7 separate regions of the Homo sapiens genome follow, and all the other regions are linked to region 1. The links come from fine-mapping of genetic effects on gene expression. A gene starts in region 1. Each other region holds a variant in brackets. All regions are shown on one strand. Distances are between the middles of the regions. Region 1 holds the start of B4GALT5 (beta-1,4-galactosyltransferase 5). Region 2 has its middle 49 kb from the start of B4GALT5. Region 3 has its middle 19 kb from the start of SLC9A8. Region 4 has its middle 12 kb from the start of PTGIS. Region 5 has its middle 39 kb from the start of B4GALT5. Region 6 has its middle 11 kb from the start of SLC9A8. Region 7 has its middle 25 kb from the start of SLC9A8.

What was found. PIP is the estimated chance that this variant, and not a neighbour inherited with it, causes the effect.
Region 2: its variant is fine-mapped to the expression of B4GALT5 in whole blood (TOPMed, PIP 0.96).
Region 3: its variant is fine-mapped to the expression of B4GALT5 in whole blood (TOPMed, PIP above 0.99).
Region 4: its variant is fine-mapped to the expression of B4GALT5 in whole blood (INTERVAL, PIP above 0.99).
Region 5: its variant is fine-mapped to the expression of B4GALT5 in whole blood (TOPMed, PIP above 0.99).
Region 6: its variant is fine-mapped to the expression of B4GALT5 in whole blood (TOPMed, PIP 0.99).
Region 7: its variant is fine-mapped to the expression of B4GALT5 in whole blood (TOPMed, PIP above 0.99).

The regions. Positions count from the first base shown.
Region 1 is chr20:49,711,983-49,716,046 of GRCh38, forward strand. B4GALT5 (beta-1,4-galactosyltransferase 5) reads right to left here and starts at 1,896. Exons shown (of 9, transcript NM_004776.4): 1 at 1,594-1,896. The coding sequence starts at 1,708. RefSeq lists silencers at 1,369-1,488, 1,779-2,108.
Region 2 is chr20:49,760,477-49,764,543 of GRCh38, forward strand. No RefSeq gene overlaps it. Among named protein-coding and RNA genes, the nearest start is that of B4GALT5, 49 kb to the left of the region's middle. RefSeq lists an enhancer at 1-115. The variant C/G (reference allele first, on the strand shown) is at 1,966.
Region 3 is chr20:49,792,133-49,796,199 of GRCh38, forward strand. It overlaps the pseudogene RNU6-919P. Among named protein-coding and RNA genes, the nearest start is that of SLC9A8, 19 kb to the right of the region's middle. The variant T/G (reference allele first, on the strand shown) is at 1,780.
Region 4 is chr20:49,578,201-49,582,267 of GRCh38, forward strand. No RefSeq gene overlaps it. Among named protein-coding and RNA genes, the nearest start is that of PTGIS, 12 kb to the left of the region's middle. RefSeq lists an enhancer at 1,920-2,494. The variant G/C (reference allele first, on the strand shown) is at 2,263.
Region 5 is chr20:49,751,290-49,755,356 of GRCh38, forward strand. No RefSeq gene overlaps it. Among named protein-coding and RNA genes, the nearest start is that of B4GALT5, 39 kb to the left of the region's middle. The variant G/A (reference allele first, on the strand shown) is at 1,989.
Region 6 is chr20:49,799,885-49,803,951 of GRCh38, forward strand. No RefSeq gene overlaps it. Among named protein-coding and RNA genes, the nearest start is that of SLC9A8, 11 kb to the right of the region's middle. RefSeq lists an enhancer at 3,057-3,186. The variant G/T (reference allele first, on the strand shown) is at 2,027.
Region 7 is chr20:49,785,880-49,789,946 of GRCh38, forward strand. No RefSeq gene overlaps it. Among named protein-coding and RNA genes, the nearest start is that of SLC9A8, 25 kb to the right of the region's middle. RefSeq lists an enhancer at 1-43. The variant G/A (reference allele first, on the strand shown) is at 1,605.

The DNA.
Region 1 (4,064 bases):
AAAATCCATATAATCCAAAATTTTTCTAGCAGAATTTACTCTCCCTGCCCCTACCCCAGCAGCATCTTCTGATCATTTTTCACCATAAACTGAGGTTTCCTCATAGTGATGCCAAGTCAGGCAAACACATTCCTTAAGCGTTCCACCTAACTCCCTTCTTCCTGGAAGTTACATGTAATAGCTGCCTTTATTTACTTATTTTTAAAACTCTTCAAGCACCAGGTACAGTGGTAAGTGCTTTTAAAGAACATGTATCTACTTCCATCCTTAACACTGTATGAGATTGGGACTCACATTCCCATTTTACAGAGGAGAAATGCAAAGGCTTAGTAACCTGCCCAAGGTCATACAGGGCAGAGATTGGAATCCAAGTCTGACCTCTGTGTCCTCCGCTCTTAACCTTCATGCTGTCTTTCCTTCTGATCTCTTCCTGTCCTAACTGGTGCCCTGTGGTCTTATAAAAGACTATGCTTGGGGCAGGCGGGGGAGGGGTGGGAGGGTCAGTTTCTCCAGAGACCGCCTTTCCTTTAAAGGATAAGACTTTGAAAAGAAGGAGTACCCATTACATCTTTCCTCCATGCTCCCCCTTCTCACCTGGTACCATTTCCCAAAGGCCCCAATCATATCCCCTTCTCTACGGACAATTTAAACTTCTCCTTTGTCCGCAGAGCAGGCACTATCCAATACTGAAGAACCACACCATCTACCCTCAAGGCTAGGAGAGGGCAGAAGTGGAAGAAAGAACACAGACAGCACCCCTTCCCCAGGTCTTCAGTTGAGAAAGAAGCTGTGGCTGAAAGTCTGGGGGGCTGGGGGCAAAGGTGACAAGGATGTGCCCTTGTGGGTACGCGAGGTGGGGGGGGGGGAGATGGGGAAGAGGCATGGGACGCTCAGGGGATTAGCAGGAGATTGAATGGGGGTGGACCTCTGTAAGGGGAAGGGGGGTGCCACCGGCAGGCAGAGAGATCAGGCCACTGAAGAGGTGAACGTGAGTTAGGGAGGAGGACCTGGAGGTGGATGTAATAGGGGAAGTAGAGGAAGAAAGGGGAGGGAGGGGGCTCACGGGAGCAGGAAACGATGGAGTCATGGGGAGTGGGGGAGGATGGATGGGAGCTAGAAGGTGGGGCGGCCTGGGACCCGGGCACATGGGCTCGGCGAAGAGCGGGCGCGCCGCGGGGGACTGGGGTGCGGGGAATGCCGGGAATGGGGGTTCGAGGAGACCCCGGGGAAGGGAAGGGGAAGCGGGAGTTCTCGAGCAGAGGAGCGGGAAGTGGGAGTTCCAGCGAGGCAAGAGCGGGAAGGGGGTTCCGGAGCAAGGGGCGGGCGTGAAGGTACAGTCGGGTTCGCGAGGGTGGCGTTAGGAGGGGCGGGGTGGGCCGGAGGCTGGCGCGGGAGAGGGATCCCGGGCGCCTGTTGGGGTGCGGAGGGCAGGAATGTCCTGGCGTCCCCGAGAGCCGGGCCAGGACTCCGGAGTCTTCGGAGGACCAGGCTCAGGGCCGCCTCCCGGCCGGGGCCCCTTAGGGAGGGGCGGGGATTCCCCGGGTCCCTCAAGGCCAGAGCGGCAGCCGCCGCGGTCCCAAGCCCCCTTCCTACCTATGCCGGGCGCCACATAGACGAAGTACAGCAGCGAGGACGAGAGAGAAAAGAAGAAGAGCGCGGCGAGCAGCGAGCGGCGCGGCAGCCGCAGCAGCCCCCGGCGGGCGCGCATGCTGCAGCCAGGCGGCCGCTAGAGAGCCAGGCCGGGCCTGCTCCCGCAGCTCCCCGTCCGCCGCCTCCTGGGCCGCCGCCGCCACCGCCTGGGCCTCGGCCACCGCCTCCCGGGCCTCGCGGGCCGCCACTCGCCGCCGCCGCCGCCTCGCCGCTCCCAGCCGCCGGCCGTCGCGGGCCGGGCCACATGAAGCGGGCGGGGGCCAGAGCGGCCCCGAGCGGGCGCAGCGGCGGGGGCGGAGGCGGGGCGCACGCGCGGGAGGCGGGGCCAGTGCCGCCGGGCACCGTCGCAAAAGACCCGCGCGCTTGCGCTCGCCGCCGACCCTCGCTCGGCGCCCACAGCAGCCCGCATGGAGTAATCGCCAAATGGCGACAGACCCTCTCCCAGTGCGGCCACCGCCCAGGCTTTCGGGGAATGTCTCCCAAGTGCTCCGCGCTAGCTCGTCCCCCATCTCGGGGGCCAAGGGGCCATCTACAAAGTCTGACTCATCTCGTTGCCCACTGCAGCAGAAGAGTGGGGACTGCAAGGCTTGGGGGTTCGGCCTGGTATACACCCTCATTCATTCATTCATTCATTCATTCAATTCACCATTTATTTATTGAATGCCAGACACAGTTGTTGGCGCTGGGCATGCTACAGAGAAAAAAAACGATAAAAATCTCTGTCTACTTGAAACTTACATTATGTGAGAGATAAAAGAAACAAATCAGCTAGTAATATCAGGTACTGGTAACACATATGAATACGATAAAACAGGAGGATGTATTGCAGGCAGGCTGGAGTGGTCAAGGAAGGCCTCACTGAGCAGTGACACGAACTGAGATATAAAAGGGTGAGAAAGCGCCAGCTTTTTTGAATAAGCTGGGGAAAAAGCAGTCATACCAGGGGGAACAGCAGGTGTAAAGGCCCTGAGGTAGGAAAAGGGCTGATCTGCCCCCGAGTTGAATCCAAGGCCAACATGGATAAAATCCAGTGAAGTAGGGGGGGAAATAGGGATGAGCTTGGAGCTGTAGTCAGGGATCCTACTGTATCAGAAATAGCATAATGATAACAATTGTCAATGTCTCTAGACTTCTGCTGAGAAACATGGACTTCACTCATGCCATGAAATTCCCCCACCAGTCTTGAGATGTGTGCTGTTATTATTACTATCATACAAATGAGGAAACTGAGGTTTCTAGATGGAAAGGCAATTCACCCAAGCCTTGCAGTAAGGGCTTAAATCAAAACTGGCCTGTCTCCCATGTCAGGCCCTTGACCTCTAGGTTGTAACTGTCTCAGCAGTCTGTATGACCTCTAATTCTTATCCTGCAGGCAAATCGGTATCCTATCCCCATCACCTGGGTATGGGACCATATCCAAAAAAATGCTTTCAGATCAGCATCAGCTCAAAGGACCTCAGAAGGCAATGAACAGTCCTAGAAATTTATGGCAAGAAGCAGTAGCCTCAAGGAGCTGGACTGAGGAGGCCAGTGTCCCTGTGTAGACATATCTGAAACTAGGGTACTGTCTTGGAATGCCAGAAGCAGTGGGGAGGGGAGAGGACTTTGCAGGGATTCTGTGAGAATCAACAATAATTCTGATTTATATTCCTAAAGTGATTTCTACTTTTTACAGTGTTTCTTTGATCCTTTAAGTGGGGAGTCTAGAGCCACACTGCCCAGGTTCTCTGACTCCCAGCTTTTCCATTGTTAGCTGTGTGACCTCACGCAAGTTAAACTCTCTGTGCCTCGGTAAAATGGAGGAGGTTATTAGCAACCTCATCAGGTTGTTGCGAGGATTTAAGTAATACATGCAAAGTGCACATAGTAAGAGTGCTTAGCTGTCACCTAATTCAATACCCCTGGAGAATGGTATGGTGGAAGAGAAGAGGCTTAAACGATCAAAAAGGAAAGCAGAGAATTTTGACTCAGATAGATGTGAGTTCAAATCTCGGCTTGGCATCTCCTGGCTGTGTGACTCTGGGAAAGTCACTTACCTCTCTGAGCTTCTCTATTCATCACCTGTGAATCGGACCCAGTGCTGCCCACCCCACGGGGATGTGATGTGGATTCGATGAAATAGTGCAGGTAAGGCCCTGGACCAGAAATCCCAGACTAGCCGGAATCATCTAACTTGCAAATAGTTTTTGTTGGCCCACACAATGGCCCCTCCCAACCCTCGTATCTATGAAACATTTTCAAACATACAGAAAAGTTGAAAGAATAGTACAAGAAACATCTGTACACTCCCCACCTGGATTTGATCATTGTTATCATTTTTCCACATGTATGTATCTATATTCATATGTTGAAAATTTTTATTTTTTGCTAAATATTTAAAGGTAGGCTGGGCGATTACACCTGTAATCCCAGCA
Region 2 (4,067 bases), 48 kb after region 1:
GTGAAACCCCGTCTCTACCAAAAATACAAAAATTAGCCAGGCATGGTGGCAGGCGCCTGTAATCCCAGCTACTTGGGAGGCTGAGGCAGGAGAATTGCTTGAACCTGGGAGGTGGAGGTTGCAGTGAGCTGAGTTCGCTCCACTGCAATCCAGCCTGGGTGACAGAGCGAGACTCCATCTCAAAAAACAAAACAAAACACAAAAAACCAGATCATCAGATGGACAAAACAGACTCTTTGTGCAATAAGATACCAAATTCCAACCTGACCCTGTATGTGATGTAGAGCATAACAGTGACAGATAACAGGCCCTAAGGAAAGTCAAAGTATTTTACCCCAAGATATATTTATTTGACATATTTTGGAGTGACCCTGCAAAGCCCACTCTTTGCCTTCTGTAGCGAATCCCCTTCCTGTTCCAGGTCTTTTCCTGATCCAGGAGAGAATTAAACTAAGAGTCTAACACCTTTTGAGGTCTAATAAGAGAAATCTACCATCTATCCTGTCTGAAGCTGGGTGCTTAGAGGCTTCATCTACATAAACAAGAACCTTGGCTTCCACAACTCTCTTACCTTAACTCAAGCATTTCTTTTTCTTTCTTTTTTTTTTTTTTGAGTTGGGTTCTCACCCTGTCACCTAGGCTGGAGTGCAGTGGTGTGATCTCAGCTCACTGAAACCTCTGCCTCCCAGGTTCAAGCCATCCTCCTGACTCCACCTCCTGATAGCTGGGAGCACAGGTGCGTACCACCACGCTGGGCTAATTTTTGGTAGAGTCAGGGGTCTCTCCATGTTGCCCAGTCTGGCCTGGGACTCCTAGGCTCAAGCGATCCACCCGTCTTGGCCTCCTAAAGTGCTGGGATTATAGGTGTGAGCCACCGCACCTGACCTCAAACATTTCTTTATGCTGACTTCAACTCCTCAGGCAATGCTTCACTCTTTCAATCAATTGCCAATAAGGAAATCTTCGAATCCACCTATGCCCTGGAAGTCCCTCTGCTTCCATCTTTGAGATGTCCTGCCTTTTGAGGCTGAACCAATGTATACATTTCATGTATTGCTTTATGTCTTTGTTTGTGACTTCCATCTCTCTAAAATGTATAAAACCAAACTGCAACCTGACCACCTTGTGCATATGTCCTCAGGACCCCCTGAGGCTGTGTCACGGGCCATGATCACTCATATTTGGGTCAGAATAAACTTCTTCAAATATTTTACGGAGTTTGGCTTTTTTCCTCAACAATACTTACCTCTCCCTTGCTTCAAACCCTCCCATGGCTCCCCAGTACTTTTTCAGTTTTTTTTTTGAGACAGAGTTTTGCTCTTTTTGTCCAGGCTGGAGTGTCGTGGTGCGATCTCCGCTCACTGCAACCTCTGCCTCCTGGGTTCAAGTGATTCTCCTACCTCAGCCTCCTGAGTAGCTGGGATTACAGGCACCCGCCACCACATCCGGCTAATTTTTGTATTTTTAGTAGAGACGGAGTTTCACCATGTTGGCCAGGCTAGTCTTGAACTCCTGACCTCAGGTGATCCACCCGCCTTGGCCTCCCAAAGTGCTGGGATTACAGGCGTGAGTCACTGTGCCCGGCCACCCCCCCAGTACTCTTAAGACAGAGTTTGAACTCCTCACTGATAAAGACCTGCAAGATCTGGCACCTCCTGGTCCCCTGCCATCACCCATGACCCTTCCTACTTCATACTTGTTCCCCAGCCAGACTGAACTACTTTTAATTGCCTAATATTATTACTAGAAAGGGGTCCTGATCCAGACCACAAGAAAGAATTCTCTCACAAGAAAGAATTCGGGATGAGTCCACAGAGTAAAGCAAAAGCAAGTTTACTAAGAAAGTAAAGGAATAAAGGCCGGGCGCGGTGGCTCATGCCTGTAATCCCAGCACTTTGGGAGGTTGAGGCAGGGGGATCACCTGAGGTTAGGAGTTCAAGACCAGCCTGGCTAAAATGGCGAAAC[C/G]CCATCTCTACTAAAAATACAAAAAATTAGCTGGGCCTGGTTGTGCGCCCATGTCATCCCAGCTACTCAGGAGGCTGAGGTATCGGAATTGCCTGAACCCAGGAGGCCGAGGTTGCCATGAGCCAAGATCGCACCACTGCACTCCAGCCTGGGCGACAGAGTGAGACTCCATCTCAAAAAAAAAAAAAAAAAAGTAAGTAAAAGAATAAAAGAATGGCTATTCTGTAGGCAGAGCAGCAGCATGGGCTGCTTGACTGAGTGTATTTATGGATACTTCCTAATTATGTGCTAAACAAGGGGTGAATTTTTCATGAGTTTTCCAGGGCAGGGTTGGGGAGCTCCTGGAAGTGAGGGTTTCTCTTCTTTTTAGATCATATAGGGTAGCTTCTGGACATTGTCATGACTCTGGTGGGAGTGTCTTTTCGCATGCTAATTAGTGTATAATGAGCAGTGAGGACAACCAGAGGTCGATTTTGTTATCATCTTGGTTTGGATGGCTTTTGACCTGCTTCTTTACTACCTCTTGTTTTGTCAGCAGGGTCTCAATGACCTGTATCTTGTGATAGGAATCCTGCTGGCCTCTTATCTCAACCTGTGAGAAAGAATGCCTAACCTCCTGGGAATGAAGCCCGTTGGGTCTCATCCACATTTTACCCAGCCCCTATTCCAGATGGAGTCGCTCTGGTTCTAACACCTCTGACAATATCCTATATTACCTCCAGACATTTGCGTATGCTAATTTCTCTCCCTCCTCCCCCATTTCATGTGGCTGTCTCCTCCTTCGTCAGGTCTCAACTCAAATGTTTTCTCCCCCAAGAGGCCTTCCTTGATTTCTTTTCTTTTTTTTTTTTTGAGATGGAGTCTCGCTCTATCACCCAGGCTGGAGTGTAGTGGTGCGATCTTGGCTCACTGCAACCTCCGTCTCCTGGATTCAAACGATTCAGCCTCTTGAGTAGCTGAGATTACAGGCACCCACAAACATGCCCAGATAATTTTTGTATTTTTAGTTGAGACGGGGTTTCACCATGTTGTCCAGCTGGTCTCAACCTCCTGAGCTCAAGTGATCTGCCCGCCTTGGCCTCCCATTAGTGCTGGGATTACAGGCATGAGTCACCGCACCCAACCACCTTCCTTGATTTCTAGACTGGATTCTGAAACCCCTTAGGGCTCCCATTGCACCTTTGTGTTTACCCTGTTGAAACAGCTATCAAACTGGATTATGGTTGTCTGTTTTCAGGACTGCTCTCTGCTCTCTCCTATACTACCTCTAGCTTTTTTTCTTTTTCAGATGTAGTTTTGCTCTGTCACCCAGGCTGGAGCGCAGTGGCACTATCTCGGCTCACTGCAACCTCCGCCTCCCAGATTCAAGCAATTCTCTTGCCTCAGCCTCCCAAGTAGCTGGGACTACAGGCGCACACCACCATGCCGGCTAACTTTTGTATTTTTAGTAGAGACTGGGTTTCAACCTGTTGGCCAGGCTGGTCTCAAACTCTTGACCTCAGGTGACCCAACCGCTTCAGCCTCCCAAAGTGCTGGGATTACAGGCGTGAGCCGCTGCGCCTGACCTCTAGCTCTTTTTTCTAACTGTTGGCCTGCTTTCCAAAAGTTGGCTTAGGCCCATGACTAGGTTCTTGGCTGTAGACTCACAAAGAACTGCTTCCCAGAGACCTCTCCACCACCTCCCTTTTGCAGTTTTACTCCAGCAGTTGGATGTGCTTGGTTTCTCAATCTGACTGGTGACTCTTCTCTGATCCTCTAAGTCCTTTTTTGAGACAGTCTTGCTCTTTCCCCTGCAAATTCCAGGTCTAGGCGTTTTTCTTTTTCTTTCTTTCTTTCTTTTTTTTTTTTTGAGAAGGAGTCTTGCTCTGTCGCCCAGGCTGGAGTGCAGTGGTGCGGTCTGACTCTCTGAAGGCTCCATCTCCTGGGTTCAAGTGATTCTCCTGCCTCAGCCTCTCGAGTAGCTGGGATTACAGGCATGTGCCACCATACCCAGCTAATTTTGTATTTTTAGTCAAGATGGGGTTTCTCCACGTTGGTTAGTCTGGTCTCGAACTCCCAACCTCAGGTGATCCGCTCGCCTCGGCCTCCGAAAGTGCTGGGAT
Region 3 (4,067 bases), 80 kb after region 1:
GAGGAAGTGAGAGAAGCCCACTTCTCTCTGACTGGAGAACAGAGAACAAGGGGAACAGAGGGAAGGAAGAGGGGCGGTAAGGGAATAGACCATGACCTTGTGGTCCATGATGTGGAATTCAAACTGTCTCCTAAGGCCAGTGGTGACCACTGAATGCTTATGAGTAAGGCAGTGACATAATAGCAACTGCTAATATTTATTTATTTATTATTTTGAGATGGAGTTTCACTCTTGCTACCCAGGCTGGAGTGCAATGGTGTGATCTTGGCTCACTACAACCTCTGCCTCCCAGTTCAAGCGATTCTCCTGCCTCAGCCTCCCAAGTAGCTAGGATTACAGGAGCCTGCCACCACGCCCAGCTAATTTTTTGTATTTTTAGTAGAGATGGGGTTTCGCCATGTTGGCCAATCTGGCCTTGAACTCCTGACCTCAGGTAATCCCCCCACCGTGGCCTCCCAAAGTGCTGGGATTACAGGTGTGAGCCACCGTGCCCTGCCTGCTGATATTTATTGACCACTTATTCAGTGCCAGACTTTTTTCTAAGCTGCTAACATGTATCATTTAGTATGTATTTGCAACAACCCTGTAATTAAGGTTCTCCAGACCACGAGCAAATTACTCAGCCATTCTGTGCCTCAGTTTCCTCATATGCACAATGGGAGTAATCATAGAACCTACCACAAAGAGTTAGTATGAGGGTTACAATGAGTGCTTGGCACATGGGAAATGCTGTGTATGTATTAGCTTTTGCTACTATTATTCCCATTTTATAGATGAAAAAGCTGAAGCCCAGAGAGATGAATCAGTTTGTCTGAGGTCACACAGCTAATGCTAATAAGGCATAGAATGAACAGGACAGGTGTGGCGAAGGTAGAAGTGCTGGTGGGCGTGGAGAAGCCACATCTTCATCCTAGGAGTGATGGAAGTGTGGACCACCCATTGGGACCCATGTGGCCAGCCTCTGTTCTGACTGGTCAGTGCCTAGGTCATGCCGGTTCTTAAATATTTCATTATCACCCTGTTATTACTACATATATGACATTGTTTTGTGGATTTAATATTTACACAAACGGTATCATACTAAATGTTAACTTCTGCAAGTCCCTTTTCTCACTCAACATTACTGTATGTTTAAGATCTGTTTAGATCTAGTTCATTCATTTTATTTTCTTTTTTAGAGATGGGGTGTCACTATGTTGGCCAGTCTGGTCTTGAAATCCTGGGCTTAAGTGATCCTCCCACCTTGGCTTCCCAAAATGTTGGGATGACAGGCGTGAGACACCGTGCCCAGCCATTCATTCATTGTTTTTTTTTTTTTTTTTTTTTTTTTGAGACAGAGTCTCGCTCTGTCACCCAGGCTGGAGTGCAGTGGCTCACTGCAACCTCTGCCTCCTGGGTTCAAGCGATTCTGCCTCAGCCTTCTGAGTAGCTGGGACTACAGGCACATGGCACCACACCTGGCTAATTTTGTATTTTTAATAGAGACGGGGTTTTGCCACGTTGGCCAGGCTAGTCTCAAACTCCTGACCTCTCAGGTGATCCACCTGCCTTGGCCTCCCAAAGTGTTGGGATTACAGGCGCGAGCCACACCATTCATTGATTTTAATTGCTCACTAGTATTCCTTTACAGGAACATGTCATGGTCTCCTTGCCCACTATCCCATGGATGCCTATTTAGTCCACTGCACTTTGGACCCATTGTAGGCAAAGCTGCCACACCCAACTTTGCATATGTTGAAGCTTCTCTAGGGTGAATACCAGGAAGTGGGATCACTGGTC[T/G]CAGAGTTCATACGTTTCAACTGCCAAGCAGCAGTACATGAAGAGTTCTTGTTTCTGCACTTCCTTACCGATGAAAATAATACCACTACCCCACATGACACTTACTATGTGCCAGGCATCTTTCTAAACATCTAACATGAAATAACTCATTTAACCTCTCAAAAAACTTTGAGGTGAGGTACTATCATCATCTCCACTAGATAGATGGAGAATGAAGACACAGAGAGGGCAAATAACTAGCCCAAGGTCACTCAGCTAGGAATAGTAGAGCATGGCATGAACCCAGAGAGGCTGGTTCCAGAGCCTGGGCTGTTCATCACTCCTGTAGGCCTTGGAATTTTCTGGTTTTCAAGTTGCTGCCAGTTTATGACTGTGAAATGTCTCTAAGTGCTTTAAGTTGCATTGCCTGCTTAGAAGGGACCTTGAGGACCTTTCCATCCATTTTTTGGCCAATCAAGCATCCTCTTCAGAAAAATGCCTCTTTCTAGCCTTGGCTGTCCCTGAGTTTCTGATCTTTTCTGCAAGTATGCCTGGAGGCCAGGACTTGGGGCGGGGCCTGGCACAGTGAGCGCACTTGGTAAAAATGTACCAGACTCACCAGGCATGGTGGCTCATGCCTGTAATCTCAGCATTTTGGAAGGCTGAAGCAGGCAGACTGCTTGAGCCCAGGAGTTCAAAACCAGACTGGTCAGTGTAGTGAGACCCTATCTCTACAAAATAAAAATTAAAAATTAGCTGGGCGTGGTGGCACATGCTTGTAGTCCCAGCTACTCAAGAGGCCTCTGAGATGGGAGGATGGCTTCAGCCCAAGAGGTCGAGGCTGCTGTGAGCTACGATTGCACCACAGCACTCCAGCCTGAGTGACAGGGCAAGACCTTGTCTTTGGGAAAAAAAAAAAAGTGTTCACTTTGGCAGCGCATATACTAAAATTGGAACAATACAGAGATTAGCATGGCCCCTGTGCAAGAATGACATAAAAAATTGTGAGGTGTTCGATATACAAAAGAAAAAAGAAAAAAAAGTGCCAGACTGACTGGTGGTGTCTTTCACGTCTCTCACCCTCTCTTCCTCCTGGGAGGCCAATGCTGATGAATAAAGCTTCTGCTTAAGTCACTGGCCCACGTCTGTGCTGTGCTGGGCACGCACAGTGGCCCTCTTGCCTCAAGCTCATTTCCTCTTCTGTTATCTGACCCTAATCTAGTTCATGATCTGATCTCATCTCCTTCGACTCTCCTTGTCTCTTGTTTCTCATGAACCCCACTGGCTGTCCTCCTGTCTCTTCAGTGGCCAAGTTCATTTCTACCTCAGGACTTTTGCATGTGCTGCTTCCTCTGCCTGGAACACTCTTCCCGTAGTGGCTCCAACTCATCCTTCAGGCCTCAACTCAAATGCCACCTCCTCAGAGAGACTTTCCTGATCACTCTGTTTAGAAGAAACAGAGGCATGAAGAGATTGAGCATAATTGTCAAAAATTGTACAGCTGGCTTATTGATGAGATTTTTGAATTATGTTATCTTATTATGTGCCTATATTTCTAAATTTTTTCTACAGTGGTGATGTGTTCCCTGTGTGAATTTTTTAAACCTCAAATTCAGGCTGGACATTGAGGCTCATGACTATAATCCCAGCACTTAGGGAGGCTGAGGCGATAGGATCGCTTGAGCTCAGGAGTTCAAGACCAGCCTGGGCAACATAGTGAGACCCCATCTCTACAAACAATTTTAAAATTAGCCAGGAATGGTGGCATGCACCTGTAGTCCCAGGTACTGGGGAAGAAGAGGTGGGAGGATGTCTTGAGGCTAAGAGTTGGAGGCTGGAGTGAGCTATGATCACACCACTGCACTCCGGCCAGGATAACAGAGCAAGACTGACTCTTAAAAAAAAAAAAAACAGGCCGGGCGTGGTGGCTCACGCCTGTAATCCCAGCACTTTGGGAGGCTGAGGTGGGCAGATCACGAGGTCAGGAGATCGAGACCAACTTGGCTAACACGGTGAAACCCCGTCTCTACTAAAAATATTTAAAAATTAGCCAGGTGTGGTGGCGGGCACCTGTAGTCCCAGCTGCTCAGGAGGCTGAGGCAGGAGAATGGTGTGAACCCAGGAGGTCGAGCTTGCAGTGAGCTGAGATCGCGCCACTGCACTCCACCCTGGGCAACAGAGCGAGATTCCATCTCAAAACAAAAACAAAACAAAACAAACAAAAAAAGCAAAAAAGAAAGACCTCAATTGTTGTTGTTGTTGTTGTTGTTGTTGTTGTTGTTTTGAGATGGAGTCTTGCTCTGTTGCCT
Region 4 (4,067 bases), 130 kb before region 1:
ACTTTCAGAGGCCGAGGCAGGTGGATCACCTGAGGTCAGGAGTTCAAGACCAGCCTGGCCTACATGGTGAAACCCCATCTCTACTAAAAGTACAAAAATTAGCTGAGCATTGTGGCAGGCACCTGTAATCCCAGCTACTTGGGAGGCTGAGGCAGGAGAATCGCTTGAACTGGGAGGCGGAGGTTGTGAGCTAAGATCGCGCCACTGAACTCCAGCCTGGGCAACAGAGTGAGATGCTGTCTAAAAAAAAATCTCATCTCAAACACACAAACATTTCACTGCTTTAAAAAAAAAAAAATAGAAATCTTTGGTGGATGTTCAGCCACGCTCATGGTTCACAGCTCCAAACTCTGATGCACAGGCAATCACATAGCCCAAATGTCTACATGTCCTGCATGTCCGCAGAGGGCTAGAGTGAGAGAGCCTGGGCTCCACGGCCAGACTATGTGAACTCAAAGCCTGGCACCCGCCCCCCCACTTAAAAGGCCTCAGGCATATTGCTTATCTGTGCCTTTGTTTCCCCAGGTGTCAAATGGAGTTGGTTGTGAGGATGAAAAGAGTTAATCTCTGGAAGTATGGAAAGCCTTGGATAAATGTGGGCTATTAGCATTATTTTCACAGCCTCCCAACCTCCCTCCACTAATACCAGACACGCTGGAGAGAGTTCTCTGTCTCCCTAACCATTTATTTGGTGATCAGAAGGACCTTCTGCCTGTGATTTCTGACCTGGCAGGATACTGGGGGACCACTTTTGCCTCTGCCTGGAGATAGCATGTCTGAGAATGAAACCGACTTACAGGGCAGCAGAACCAAGAGATAGGGAAATACAGTTTCTTGAGATATCATTTGAACCCCCGGATTCAGCCATGCCTGAAGCCAGAATGCTCCTGACCACATGAACCATTAAATTATTTTTGTTTGCTTGTTTCAGCCAATTTGGGTTGAGTTTCTTTCACTTGCAATAGAAGAAAGTTCTCCATTCTGAAGCTGAATAAGGTAGTATGTGAAGTACTTGTTTCATACCTGGTGCTTAATGGATGAAACCTTATTACATTCTCATTTCGTAAACCTTCTCCAGGGCTTTCTGGGAGGCAACCAGATATGAATTAGAGTGACACAGCTTTGCACTCCTTGCCCAGCCTGGATAAGATGCCCCATTCGCAGCAAGCTCTATGCAGTCAGGGCCAGCTTCATGGACATGCAACCTGGGTGCTCACATAGGCCCCTGCACCCAGAATGGTCTCATGCTCGGCTTAGCGCTCTCCTGTCACCAGCTTGAAATTCTTAATTATTTTTGAACAAGGGTCCCCATGATTTTACTTTACTCTGGTACCCACAAAGTATATAGCTGGTCTTAATACCAGTATCATCTCCACTTTCCAGGTGAGGAAACTGAAGCTCAAAGAGGGGAAGCAAGCAGCCCAAGGTCACACAGCAAGAAAGGGGTGGAGCTGGGAATCAAATTCTGATTCTGAGGCCCAAGTTCATAACTGCGATGTGCCAGTGCCTGGACAATTCCTCATATGTGGATGGCACTTCACAGTTTATACTCTAGTGCATAGCATTTGACCCTCATACCAGCTTTAGAAGCAGAAATTGTCATGCTGGCATCAGGCAGAGTACTTGGGTTTGTTCAAGCCTCAGAAACCAACCCTGGCTAATTTAAGAAAAAGAAAAGGTGGGGACGAGGTATTGGAAGGAAAAGTTGACCAGCTGGGACTTGGAAAGGACAGGAACAAGCAGCTCCGGGAACGCGGGGAGCAGGAGCCAGGGGTGTGGGGAGCAGGAACCAGTGGCCAGGTCTTCGGGGCTCCAGCTGTTTCCAATCTCAGCATTCCTTCCGCTTCAGTTTCTGATTCTCCCACGAGAAAGTCTGATTGGCCATGTTTGGGTCATGTGCCTGCCCACAGACCTTGATGGTCAACCAAACAAGGTGGGAAGGATGATCCCCCAAAGGCGGGTCAGAAAGTGGGGTGGGAGGGCTGAAAGCTGGGCAGGGACGGCTGTGTGCGCATTTTACAGATGAGGAATGGGAAGCCCAGACAGAAGGCAAGGCCACAGAACCGGGAATGGTGGAGTCTGGGCTCCAGTCAGAGGCCCAGGCTGCCTCTCTTCACTCCCAGGACTCCAGGCTGGCAGGGGAACAGGAGGGCATTGTTCTCCCTGTTGGAGTGAATGGCCGCCTCCTGGGAAACCCAGGACCCAGATGGGGTCTCCCCAGGGCGCAGGAAACTGCCTCAGACTGAGCTGTATTCAGGGGTC[G/C]AAGCCTCCTCCCCACCCTCCCCCTACAGTGGACAGACTCCCCCTTCAAATCCAACCTCACTGCTCAGCTCTAGCCCTATGGTTTTTAAGAGAAGCTAGTGGGGGAAAGGCTTATTTTTCCAATGTGCATTTTTTCCGGTATGTAAGATACTGTGTGGACCAAATAAAATATGTCCAGACCTGGAAACAGCCCAAGCATAGCTAGTTTATAAGTCCTGGAATGCTCCTTCCTGCACACAAAAATTAAGGGTCTGTTTACATAGATATGCTAGTGTGTTGGAGTTGAACTTTTCCTTACTCTGAACTCAGATATGCAAAGAAAAATGAGCCTTTTACATTTTCCATGGATGTCATCTAGTTCAGTGATTAGGAGCAAGAGACATGCTGGAGCCAGAGAACCTGGGTTTACATCTTGGCTTTGCCACTATGTGACCTCAGGCAGGTCACTTAACTTCTCTGAGTCTCAGTTTCCTTTAAGGGACATATGTACACACGGGTGTGGCATTTAATAAAAACCACAAAAGTCCCTGCTACTGCTCTGTGTCCATGGTATGATGTTGGTCATGAGCCCTCACACTGGAAGAAATACAAAATCTTAAGCCAGGCTAATCATTTAAACTGTCTATTTAGGCAAGACAGGCTTCCCCTGGGGTATTTCAGGGACAAACTCCATTGATCAGTTTCCCACCTTCCTCTGCTCCTCTTCAAGAAGCTTCTGCCTGAACACCACTTTGGTAACAGGGAAACTGAGCTCCGAGGAGAGAGGTCAAGGTTAGGAAATGTCATTTAGTGAGTGTCCCTTCTGCACAAAGCCGTATAGGTACGCAAGCTCCTTGAATCCTCATAACCATTCTGGATGGAAAGAATCAGGACTCCCTTAACCAACATTGTGGAGCTTGCAAGTAACGGAGGCAGCATTAGATTCCAGGATGTTCAACTTCGAGGCCTGCCTTTTCTCTGCTCCTATTAACTGTGTATTCCCATTCCTGGTCATAAGGCAAGATTCAGAGGCATCTGTGCTCCAATTGACCATGGCGCTTGATCCCAAAAGGAAAAACTCTTTCTCTCTCTCTCTACCTGATTAACAATAATAATAACAATAATTTAATGGCTCAAGCAGGGAAAGTCCAGTGGTGGGAAATCCTGGCTTCAGGGAACTGGGAAGAAAAACAGCTTCAGGAATGGCAGGATCCAGGGGCTCCATGGATGTTGCCAGGACTCACTTCTCTCTCTAAGCAATGCTTTCCTTTGTATTGGCTTCTCCCTCAGGCAGCCTCTCCCTGTTTTGTATCAAGATAGCCTTAGCAGTCCTTATGCCCTGGCAGCTTGGTGATGCCAGCAGAAGGAGACTCTGGGACTAACTCTGGTTGGCCTTATTAAGGTCAGATGCAAATCCCTTTACTTCTTTCTCTAGCTCATATCGGTCAGGCCTGCGTCGCCTTCCCACTTCTAGATCTGGAGGTAGAGACTAGGGTAGTTTTCTCACATTGATGCCCTAATTAATGACCTTCCTGCATCCGAGCCCTTTGCAGTGTGAGTTTATTTCCACATGATCTGAATCTGGGCTTGGCCTTGAGACTTGCTCTGACCACTGGAATCCAAGGGAAGTGATGCTGTGCCTGCTTCCAACCTAGGCTTCAAGAGTCTTCTTCACTTCTCCCCTCTCTGTTGGAACTCTGGATAGCCACCATGAGAACAAACCTGGGCTAGCCAGCTGCAGGAGGAGAAACCATCTTAAGAAGTGCCTGGTCCCCCAGCAAAGACTAACAGCGCAACAGCCAGCTGACCTATCAGAGTTTGTTTTT
Region 5 (4,067 bases), 39 kb after region 1:
AGTCAATTCTGGCTGGAGGGCAGGGTTGAGTAGCTTGTACGCGTGGTTTCATGGGGTAGTTGCACCTGTTTCAAAGAGAGATGGGTCACCACAAACTGGGCAGAAACCACACGATATGTCCATGATGCTCTGCAGCTGAATGAAGTTATCTACAAAGAAACTGAAGCCAAGGCCAGGCAGAAGTCAGGCCTGAAGCTAAGAATTTGTTTCCCCAAGACAGGAACATTCCTGCATCTGGAGGCTGAGGCTGCTTGGACAGAGAAGTGCATCCAGCTGCCAAGGTGAAGCTCTGAAGGGGCCTGTCCATGAGAGCAGGGCCAAGAACGCCTAAGCCCACCAGTAAGATGCAAGAACACCTGTGCGAAATAATAATAATGATCATAGCTGGGTGTGGTGCCTGACAGCTGTAATCCCAGCACTCAGGGAGACAGAGGCAGGAGGATCACTTGAGCCCAGGAGTTTGAGACCAGCCTGGGCAACCTGGCAACCCCTTCCCCACACCCCTTGTCTCCACAAAAACGACAAAAAATTTTTAAAATGATAATAATATAAAATAGCACTAATAATAAATGTTATTCAGTGCTGCTGACCAGGTATCACTCTAGACACTTAAATGAACAGCATTTTTGCTTTTTTGTTTCTTTGTTTTTGAGACAGAGCCTCACTCTGTCCCCCAGGCTGGAGTGCAGTGGCACCATCTTGGCTTATTGCAAACTCTGTCTCCTGGGTTCAAGTGATTTTCATGTCTCAGCCTCCGGAGCAGCTGGGATTACAAGCGTGTGCCACCACGCCCAGCTAATTTTTTGTATTTTTAGTGGAGACGGGGGTTTCACCATGTTGGTCAGGCTGGTCTCAAACTTCTGGCCTCAAAGTGATCCACCCGTCTCAGCCTCCCGAAGTGCTGGGATTACAGGCGTTAGCCACTGTGCCTGACCTAAATGCGCAGCATTTTTAAGCCTAATGATACAGTCAGATGGGTATTTATTATCCTCATTTACAGAACATATATTGAATGAGTGAGCATTAACTGATCTTTCACCTTATTAATTCACTTAGTCATTCACTCACTCAATGGATAAACAATTAATGAATGCCAACTATATGCCAAATACCATGTGTGCTGGGTGTTGGGACACAAGCAGTCCTGTCTTTGTGAATGTTACAGTAAAATGTTGGAGGCTCTGAAGGGTGAGTGGTCATTAATTAGACGGTTAGACTAATAAGAGGGGAAGGGAAAGGCATTCCAGGTAGAAGGAACTCCATGTGCTAAGGCACTGTGGGGGAAGGGCATGTGTGGGGTGGGAGCAATGCCTGTTGACTGATGGTGTGCCAGAGAGGCAGAGAGCCACGCAGTTTACACCTGCTGGCTCACTGACCCTTACCACAGTCCTGTGAGATAGCTACTGCTATTAATATCATTTTGTAGATGAGGAAATCGAGGCACAGAGAAGGTAAGTAACTTTCCCAAGGACACACAGCACCATTAGCAGTGAAAGAGCAGCAGTTATAACCCAGGCCTGTGACCAGAATTCTGAACATCTCTAATCTTTAAGTAAAGGAAGGCAGGAGAAATTGGTCCATTTGGGGCAGGTGTGTTTTCTGGGAACCTTCCAGCACTATTTTCACTTGCAGCTGTAGCCACAGGCTACATAGATGATTTCCAGAATGGAGGGGAAGAAGAGTGCACCCAGCCTTTCCTGGCCACAGGCAGGAATCCTTTTAGCCAGTTATTAATGCTCAGCCACAGGAGATGCCGCAGTGAGACACACAGAGGAGCCAGACCAGGGAGAGGCAGCAAGAAAGACAGCATTGATCCTGGAGGTATACATTTAGGAGAGAGAACCTGTCAGAACAGAAAGAGCTTGGACTTGGGACCAGGCCAACCTCAGCCCAAATGGCAGCCCTGCTACCCACCAGCTCTGTGACCTTAAGTAAGTTTCCTCTTAGTCTCCAGTTCTTTATTCAAGCAGAGTAAAAGTATGCTTCCC[G/A]CCTCCCTCCCACCTCCATCCTGTAGCCAACAGTCCCCCCTCCCCAGAGGCAGGCACTATGACTAGTTTCATGCATCATCTTCCGGGTAAATTGTAGAGAGATAGATGGATGAATAGAAGTATATATGTGTGTGTATAATATAGTACACACATATATGCAAATATTGTAACTATTGGGATGCTTTGACTAAGTACAAAAAAACCTACAGATGCAAGATTTACTTATTAAGAACTGTGGAGATAATAAATGCCTAATTTCTGTGTCCAACTGCTCATTAATGTCTAGTAAGAATCTCAAATTTAACATGGTTAAGATTAAACTTTTATTGTTATTATTATTATTTTGAGACAGAGCCTCACTCCGCTGCCCTGGAGTGCAGTGGTGCAATCTTGGCTTACTGCAGCATCAACTTCCCAGGCTCAAGCAATCCTCCCACCTCAGCCTCCTGGGACTGCAGGTGCACACCACCACGCCTGTCTAATAAAATTAAACTTTATGATTCCTCACCCTCCAAACCTGTTTCTCCCTTACTAAATACCTGGTTACTCAAGCCAAAAATACACTGAAATAATTCTGGATTTTTCTCTCTTTCACTCACTTTTTTTGGGGGGTGCTGGGGTGCAGTGGCGCCACCTCAGCTCACTGAAACCTCCACCTCCTGGGTTCAAGGAGATTCTTGCGCACCAGCCACTGGAGTAGCTGATTACAAGTGTGTGCCACCATGCCCAGGTTTTTTTTTTTTGGTTTTTTTTTTTTTTGGTATTTTTAGTAGAGACAGGGTTTCGCCATGTTGGCCAGGCTGGTCTCGAACTCCTCACCTGAAGTCATCCACTTGCCTTGGCCTACCAAAGTGCTAGGATTACAGGCATGAGCCACCACGCCTGGCCTTTCACTCACTTTTTACATCTGATTCATCACATAGTCCTGTCCAGCTTTTCTGAAAATCTAGAGATAGATCCACCATTAAGTGAATGAAGCAAAGCTGAGATCAGGGCTCTTCAATTGCACAGCCCCTTCCAAATCTAGCAATATGTTCACACAGTCATGTGTTTCTGCAACATCTGCAAAGGTAAGTATTTTAGCTGCAACTGGTTAGACAAGGTCTCTCCAGCTCCCCAACGTTGCCTGCCTGGGAATGTGCATCGGGTGGCATTTGGGGAGCTATGGGCAGGGATCAGCTAAGGGGAAGATGAGTTAGGGAATCCATTAAATTTGGGTTTAGTGGATGTAATCTTTTTTTTGTTTTTTAATAGAGGTGGGGGTCTCACTGTGTTGCCCAGGCTAGACTTGGGCTCCTGGGCTCGAGTGATCCTCCCACCTCAGGCTCCTGAGTAGCTGGGACTACAGGTGTGCACCACTGCACGCAGCTTTAGCGGGATGTAGTCTTGTAGCTCACGATCTTTTCGGTGAATAAGGAAAGTATTGCTTGTTGTCCTGGCAGAGAAATGGCTTCCAGGATACTCCTTCTGCCCATGCTACTGACTCACCCAGTATCAAGACACAAAAGTCTGGCACGGTGGCTCATACCTGTAATTTCAGCACTTTGGGAGGCCAAGGCAGGAAGATTGATTGAGCCTAGGAGTTCCAGACTAGTCTGGGCAACATAGTGAAACCCTATCTCTTCAAAAAAAAAAAAATTGTTTTAGCTAGCCTGGAGTGGTGGTGGTGTGTTCCTGTAGTCCCAGCTATTAGGGAGGCTGAGGTGGGAGGATCACTTGAGCCCAGGAGGTCAAGACTACAGTGAGCCATGATTGCACCACTGCACTCCATCCTGGGCAACAGAGAAGCCCTGTCTCAAATTAAAAAATAAAAATAAAAAAACAGGCACAAAAGTGACTGGGCACAGTGGCTCACGCCTGTAATCCCAGCACTTTGGGAGGCCGAGGCGGGCAGATCACGAGGTCAGGAGATCGAGACCATCCTGGCTAACATGGTGAAACCCTGTCTCTACTAAAAATACAAAAAAATTATCTGGGCGTGGTGGCGGGTGCCTGTAGTCCCAGCTACTCGGGAGGCTGAGGCAGGAGAATGACGTGAACCCGGGAGGCGGAGCTTGCAGTGAGCCGAGATCGTGCCAC
Region 6 (4,067 bases), 88 kb after region 1:
TAGACATGGATCTGCTTTGACCTTTGAGACGAATGCATGGAGATCTATTGATCGGATGGGCCACGTTTGTTTCCCACACTTCGTTGAAAAATTGGGGGTGAAAAAAACTGGGAGTGAAAAAATGGCCAAACCAAAAGAAGGGTGAGTCATTCCCTCCTACCCCAAAATACAGAGGAGAGGGTGAAGAAGGAGGACCGCCCCTCCTCGCTCCAGTAAAGCCTTTAACAGGCCCATCCTGATTTACAGGGAGCGGACTTGGTTTCCTGTTCAAGAATTTCCAAGGCAAAAACAATCCTCAAACACATGAAGATGAGGTTGGGCAAATAACTCATGGATGGTCTCAACGCTGGAGGGCAAAGTTGTTTATTAAGCTCCCGACCCTCAAAGGGAATTACTTAAATTTTTTTCTTGATTATAAAAGTAGTATTCCAGCCTGGGCAACAAGAGCGAGACTCCATCTCAAAAAAAAAAAAAAAAAAAAAAAGTATTGGCTCATCACTATGAAAAAGCATTTTCAGAGAATACAGAAAAGTGTGAGGAATAGAATAAAAAACAGTCATAATTTTGGAGCATTTTGTAAGTTAGCCCATAGATTTTTTAAATGCATACACATGTACTTAATTCTAAAGTGAACCTGTGCTATCTTTTTATTTAACAGTAATCCTAAGATTTATTGAGTATGTACAATGCATATGCTAGTTGCTCTCTGTGTATTAATCCATTTTATATTTACAGTAGTCCTGTGTGATAAGCACTATTATTAATTCAATTTTATAGATGGGGAAACTGAGGCAGAGAGCAGTTAAGTGATTTACCCAAGATCACACAAGGTGGCCAAGCTGGAATTCAGAAACAAGTAATCTGGCTTCAAGGCCCATGACGTTAACCACTATACTACATTGCTAAGGCAGAGCAGAGACCCCTCCCAAGTTAATACCCATAGATATGAGTCATCCTTTTTAGTGCCTGCACTTATTCTTCTATTACTAGATAATTGGGCTTTTTCTAGTTTCCCCCTACTAGGAAATAGAGAGAAACTTCCCTTTTGGGCTTTAAATTAGACAAGAAAATATGCGGTTAGATGTCACCACAACTTGTACTTCTTTTTTTTTTTTTTTTTTTTGAGACAGGGCTCGCTCTGTCACCCAGGCTGGAGTGCAGTGGTGCGATCACAGCTCACTGCAGCTTTGACCTCCCAGGCTCAATCTATTCTCCCGCCTCAATCTATTCTCCCACTTCAGCCTTCTGAGTAGTTGGGACTACAAGTGCACACCACCGTGCCTGACTATTTATTTCTCTTTTCTGTAGACATGGGGTCTCACTGTGTTGCCCAGGCTAACAACTGGTATTTCTAACCCAGGAGAAGCAACGAAGGGCTCAGCCCTACTTTGAAGCAATCGCCCCATTATGCACATATATATTGACTGGGGGAGGTTATTTTATTTAAGAAACATCCATGAAGTACTTATGTGCCAGACAGACATGGCTTCAAGAACTTCTGAATAGGCTGGGCACGGTGGCTCACGCCTGTAATCCCAACACTTTGGGAGGCCGAGGCGGGCGGATCACGAGGTCAGGAATTCGAGACCAGCCTGGCCAACATGGTGAAACCCCGTCTCTACTAAAAATACAAAAACTTAGCTGGGCGTGGTGGTGGGCGCCTGTAATTCCAGCTACTTGGGAGGCTGAGGCAGGAGAATTGCTTGAACCCAGGAGGCAGAGGTTGCAGTGCAGTGATCCGAGGTCACGCCATTGCACTCCAGCCTGGGCAACAAGAGTGAAACTCTGTCTTAAAAAAAGAAAAAAAGAAAAAAGAACTTCTGAATATTAGCTCACTTCACCCAAAAATAATACTCTGAAATACATACCAGGGAAACTGAGGCACAAGGGGGTTAACTTGCCCAACATGACAGAGGCAGTAAGTGGCAGTGCTGAGATCTGAACCCCGGAAGCTTGGCTCCAGTGTCTGGGTTCTTAACTCCCAATCAGCCTCTCTGTCTACCCCTTGGCCCAAGAGAGCTGGCCC[G/T]CCCTGGGGTACTCAAAGCAAACCCACTTTCAGCTGAGGACTGACGGCAGCAAGGTGAATATATCTATTTTTCCTTTTAAGTGATACTCATGTATTAGCTCACAGTTCTGTAGGTCCTAAGCTCATGCAGGCTCTGCTGTGTTATACGTTCAGGGCATCACATGGCTGAAGCAGAGATGTCAGCTCACTGGAGTCCTCATCTGGAGGCTATGGGAGGAATTGGACTCTTTTCAGATTGTTGGCAGAATTCAGTTCCTTGCAGCTGTAGAACTGAAGCCCCCATTTCCTTACTTGCGATTCTCTCTGCAACTAGAAGCTTCCTGCATTCCTTGTCCTGTGGCCCCTTCTTTTTTTTGAGACAGAGTCTCGCTCTGTTGCCCAGGCTGGAGTGCAGTGGCGTGATCTCGGCTCACTGCAAGCTCCGCCTCCCGGGTTCATGCCATTCTCCTGCCTCAGCCTCCCGAGTAGCTGGGACTACAGGCGCCCGCCACCATGCCCAGCTAATTTTTTTTTTTTTGTAGTAGAGACGGGGTTTCACCATGTTAGCCAGAATGGTCTTGATCTCCTGACCGCGTGAGCCACCCATCTCGGCCTCCCAAAGTGCTGGGATTACAGGCATGAGCCACCGCGCCCAGCCTATATCTTTTTATTTATGGCAAATATTTTAACTGTCCCACAGATTTGTCTTGAATAAGAAGCAAAGAGACGGGAAAACCCCTTAGAAACAGGTGTGTAATGGGACTTTTCTTTTGTTTCAGTTTTGGTTAAGGGCTTCGTGCTGAGGTACTGTGGCTCTCTCTAGAGACAGCTGAATGTCTGCTGAGTTAGAAAAGGGGAGACTTCCCCAAACCGTCTATGAACCCTTAGCCCATCACCTGTGTTGAGGGTGTACCGGGAAGACTTGAGGATTACTGAGGGGAAAATAGAGGTTATGGAGAAAGTTTCCCCTTCATTGAAAATGCCTGGGCAGGGTGCGGTGGCTCACGCCTGTAATCCCAGAACTTTGGGAGACCGAGGCGGGTGGATCACCTGAGATTAGGAGTTCGTGACCAGCCTGGCCAACGTGGTGAAACCCCATCTCTACTAAAAATACAAAAAATTAGCTGGGCGTGGTGGTAGGCGCATGTAATGCCAGCCACTTGGGAGGCTGAGGCAAGGAGAACCCAGGAGGCAGAGATTGCGGTGAGCCAAGATCGCGCCATTGCACTCCAGCCTGGGCAACAAGAGTGAAACTCCATCTCAAAAAAAAAAAAAAGTTTGCAAAAATAAAAAAATAAAAAATAAATAAAGGGCCGGGGACAGTGGCTCACTCCTATAATCTCAGCACTTTGGGAGACACGGGCTGGCAGATCCCGTGAGCCAAAGAGTTCAAGACCAGCCTGAACAACATGGCGAAAACCCGCCTCTACAAAAAAATACAAAAATTAGCCAGGCACAGTGGTTGTGCCTGTAGTCTCAGCTACTTGGGAGGCTGAGGTGGAGGATCACCTGAGCCCAGGAGGTTGAGGCCAAAGTGAGCAGTGATTGTGCCACTGTATGCCAGCCTGGGTAACAGAGTGAGACCCTGTCTCAAAAATAAAATAAAATAAATAAAAATTAGAAGAAGAAATAATTGAAAATTCTGAAAAACATAAAATAAAAAAGGCAGTTTCCTTGGAGTTTTCTGTGCTACTGTGGACATAGCACATAGTAGGTGCTTAATCCATACTTAATGATTTATGTCAGGTGCTAGTCTAGGTACTAGACCCCCTGTGAGCCTAATGGGGATGACAGGTCACAAGGAAGTAAATTTGAAAAAGAAACAACATTGTGCTAAGTGAAAGAAGCCAGTCATAAAATGCCACAGATTTTATTCCACTTACATGAAATGTTCAGAATCCGTAAATCCATAGAGACAGAAAATAAAGTAATGACTGCCAGGGGATGGGGCAGCAGGGAGTGACTGCTGATAGGTGCAGAGGTTCTTGTTGGGGTGCCAGAAATGTTTGGGAATCAGACAGTTGTGATGGTTGCATAACATAGTGAATACACTAAAACCCAC
Region 7 (4,067 bases), 74 kb after region 1:
TCAGGCCACATTACAGGGGCAAGAGGAGCCTTGTGGCCAGAGGTTCTAGAGGTCAGCAGCAAGTCATGCATCTGAAGAGGAAGTTGATTGCTGTACCTCAAGCTGAAACAGAAACTGCGGTGGCTAGCAAGGAAGGGTCCCCACCTGTGCGCCTCAGCCCCTTGGCCATTGCCAGCTTCCAACAGACCACAGAGACTTTTGGGGGAAAACTTTTTTATTGAAGTGTAACAGACATACAGAAAAGTGCACAAATAAGGAAAGTGCACAGGGGAGCGATGGCTCGATACATTTTCACAAAGGCAGACAGCGGGGTAACCAGCCCCCAGCTCAAGGAACAGAACATTCCCCGCCCCGGAGAAGCTCCCTTCAAGTCTTTCCCATCCTAAGCGATAACCGTTATCCTGATTCCAACAGCAGTGATGATTTTTGCCGTTTTTTGAACTTGATGAAATGGCAGCACATAACACGTATTCTTTTGTGTAAGACTTACTTACTACAAACTTTGTATGTTTGTAGCAACAGCCTTTTGACCCTGTCTCTTCCTCCATGCCCTCAAAGAGAAAAAGGAACCTAATAATAACACAAAATAAAGCGAAAGCATACTTGCTTGACTGGTTTAAATGTGCCATCTGGCCGGGCATTTTGGAGGCCGAGGCGGGTGGATCACTTGAAGTCAGGATTTCGAGACTAGCCTGGCCAACATGGTGAAACCCCATCTCTACTAAAAGTACAAAAATTAGCTGGGCATGGTGGTGGGCACTTGTAATCCCAGCTACTTGGGAGGCTGAGGAAGGAGAATCGCTTGAACCTGGGAGGCAGGGGTTGCAGTGAGCAGAGATCGTGCCACTGCACTCCAGCCTGGATGACAGAGGGTGACTCCATCTCTCAAAAAATAAAATAAAATAAAATAAAATAAAATAAAATATAAAATAAAATGTGCCATCCATTCTTTCATGCTTCAGCCACCCAGTGGGCTGGAACTGTTACTGCTTCCATTTCAAATATTGGGAGGCTGAGGCACAGAGAGGTTAAATAATTTGCTCAGCCAGGAAGTGAAGGTCTGTATTTAAAGCCAGGTCTCTCTGATCTCCAAGCTCATGTTCTAACCCAGCATACACTCCTTATCAATAAAATGACCATGTATTGAACACCCTCTTTGGACTGAATACTATACTTCAACTTTATGTCCATTGTCTTATTTGATTTTCCCAGCCGTTGATGAGTAATATACCATTATCCTTGCTTAGCAAATGATGAAAGCAGGGTTCAGAGAGGTTAAGGAACTTTCCTAACGTCATACAGCCCAGGAAGGCATGAAATAAAAATTTAAACTCTATTTTGTTGATTCCAAAGTCCAGTGCAGAACGATATCAGTACCCAGCATTTATGCGCATCTTTCAAATATACCTTCTGAGGCCCTGCAGGGTGGCTCATGACTGTAATCCCAGCACTGTGGGAGGCCGAGGTGGGTGGATCAGTTGAGGTCAGGAGTTCAAGACTAGCCTGGCCAATATGGTGAAACCCCGTTTCTATTAAAACTACAAAAATTAGCCGGGTGTGGTGGCACACGCCTGTAATCCCAGTTACTTGGGAGGCTGAAACAG[G/A]AGAATTGCTTAAACCCCGGAGGCAGAGGTTGCAGTGAGCCGAGATTGCACCACTGTACTCCAGCCTGGGTGACAGAGCAAGATTCTGTCTCAACAGAAACAAACAAACAAAAACAAATATACCTTCTGAGTTTTTCAAAAAAGAGACAACAATAGCAGTTACCTTTTATGGATCATCTCAGAGTCAGTTGTTTTGGTCAAAGATTGCAAATGATCCCTTAATTTGTGTTCTTGTCTTCTCTCTCCTAGTAAGAGTATACCTGATTTTTAGCTTGGCACATGGCTTCCCATGGCTTTACTACCTATCTCAGCCTTCCTTGCAGCTAGGGGTAGCCACATGACTAACTTATAGCCAGTGAAGAACTGTTCCCCGACATGCCCACATGGCTCATGTCAACCCCAGCATTACATCATTTGTTTAAACTCTCAGTTTCTCTGTCTTGAAAATAGGGATTTAAATATTTATTTAAGCCAGGTGTGGCTGAGGTGAGAGGATCACTTGAGGCCAGGAGTTCGAGACCAGCCTGGGCCACACAATGAGACCCCTGCCTTTACAAAACAATTTTTTAAAAAAATTAGCTGGGCATGGTGGCGTGTGCCTGTAGCCCCAGCTACTCAGGAGGCTGAGGTGGGAGGATTACTTAAGCCTGAGAGGTTGAGGCTGCAGTGAGCCTTGATTGCGCCATTGTGCTGCAGCCTGGATGACAGAGCAAGACCCCATCTCAACATATGTGTATACATCTATCTATCTATCTATCTATCTATCTATCTATCTATCTATAGCTATATCTGTCTCATCTCTCTCTCTCTCTGTCTATATATATATATATATATATATATATAAATAAATATGTTCTTTTTTTTTTAATTTAACAAAAGCAGGAAGTAGACAGACACAGTGGGTGGTTCATGCCAGTAATCCCAGCACTTTGGGAGGCCAAGGCGGGAGGATTGATTGAAGCCAGGAGTTTGAGACCAGCCTGGGCAATATAGTGAGACCCCTAACTCTACAGAAAGTTTAAAAAAAAAAATCAGCTGGGTGTGGTGGTATATGCCTGTAGTCCCAGCTTCTTCACATCACTGCACTCCAGCCTGGGCAATAGAGCATAACCCTGTCTCTTAAAAACAAAAAACAGGAATATATGTAGTAGAGTCACCTTGAGTGTGGATTGGGAGAAGAAGCTAGGACAGGAAGGACACTAATGTGTTTGTGTTGGGTAAACAAACCCTGTTTATTGGGAGACCACCTGCTCCAGAAGAAAAGACACCAGGTGAAGACAGGAAGCTGGGTGCTGCTAACTGAATGAGCTGGGACAAGGCCCTTCCCTTACCTAGGGATAGATAATAAAAAATATTTTATTGTATATTTTTAAGGTAGTAGTTCCTTGTCTGCAGAGTGGGGATTTAGATTACATCTATCCTTTTGGTTTTGTCTACTCACTATGAATTCCCCTATCATAACAGCATCCTAATTTCTCTGGGAGCCCCCTTCTTTACTCCCTGTCCATGTGAAAGGCATGCAGCACTAACTTTATCCTTGGTTCCAGGAAGGCCAATGCTCCATGCTGGCCAATCAGCACCCCTCATTTCTCTGCCCATAGGGATTGGCTCAGAAATGGGCACCTGCCCCAAGTGGACCAGTGAGTTATCCCTCAGGTTTTTGCTGGGATTGTTTTGCTTCTGCTGCGCTAGGCTGGTATGAAGAGGGTCTGAAGCTCAAAGGTAGCCACCATTGTGAGAGTGAAAGACTGAGCCCTGATAACTTATGAACCCCTGAATCCAGCTGTACCTGAAGGCAGCCACATATTCCTGAACATGTTATTCTCCATGAGTCAATATGGTTCCTCTTTGTTGTTTTTTTGTTTTTTGTTTTTGAAATGGAGTCTCGCTGTCACCCAGGCTAGAGTGCAGTGGCACCATCTCAGCTCACTGCAACCTCCACCTCCCGGGTTCAAGCAATTCTCCTGCTTCAGCCTCCTGAGTAGCTGGGACTATGGGCACGTATCACCACGCCCAGCTAACTTTTTTGAATTTTTAGTAGAAACAGGATTTTGTCATGTTGGCCGGGCTGGTCTTGAACTCCTGACCTCAAGTGATCCACCTGTCTTGGTCTCCCAAAGTGCTGGGATTACAGGCATGAGCCACCGCGCCCATCCTCAATATGGTTCCTCTTTGGACTTAAGTCACTGTAGCAGATGACGTGGCTTCTGTGTCCATATCCCCTTGGCATTCATCCTTTTGACCCACAGTGAGTGGATGGCTTCAAATTTCCACGCCTATCTTTGCAGCCTGAGGGCTTTGCTCTCATATACGCTCTGCATACACAGTCTGAGAATGCTGGGGGCTTCACCCTCCCCTACAAGCAGCCCTTAACCAATGAGTGACAGGGGCTGGTGGATAAATGTCCCCACTCCCTTGCCCTTCACCTGGATAATTCTGAGGTGTATTGCACTCTGTGTCCCA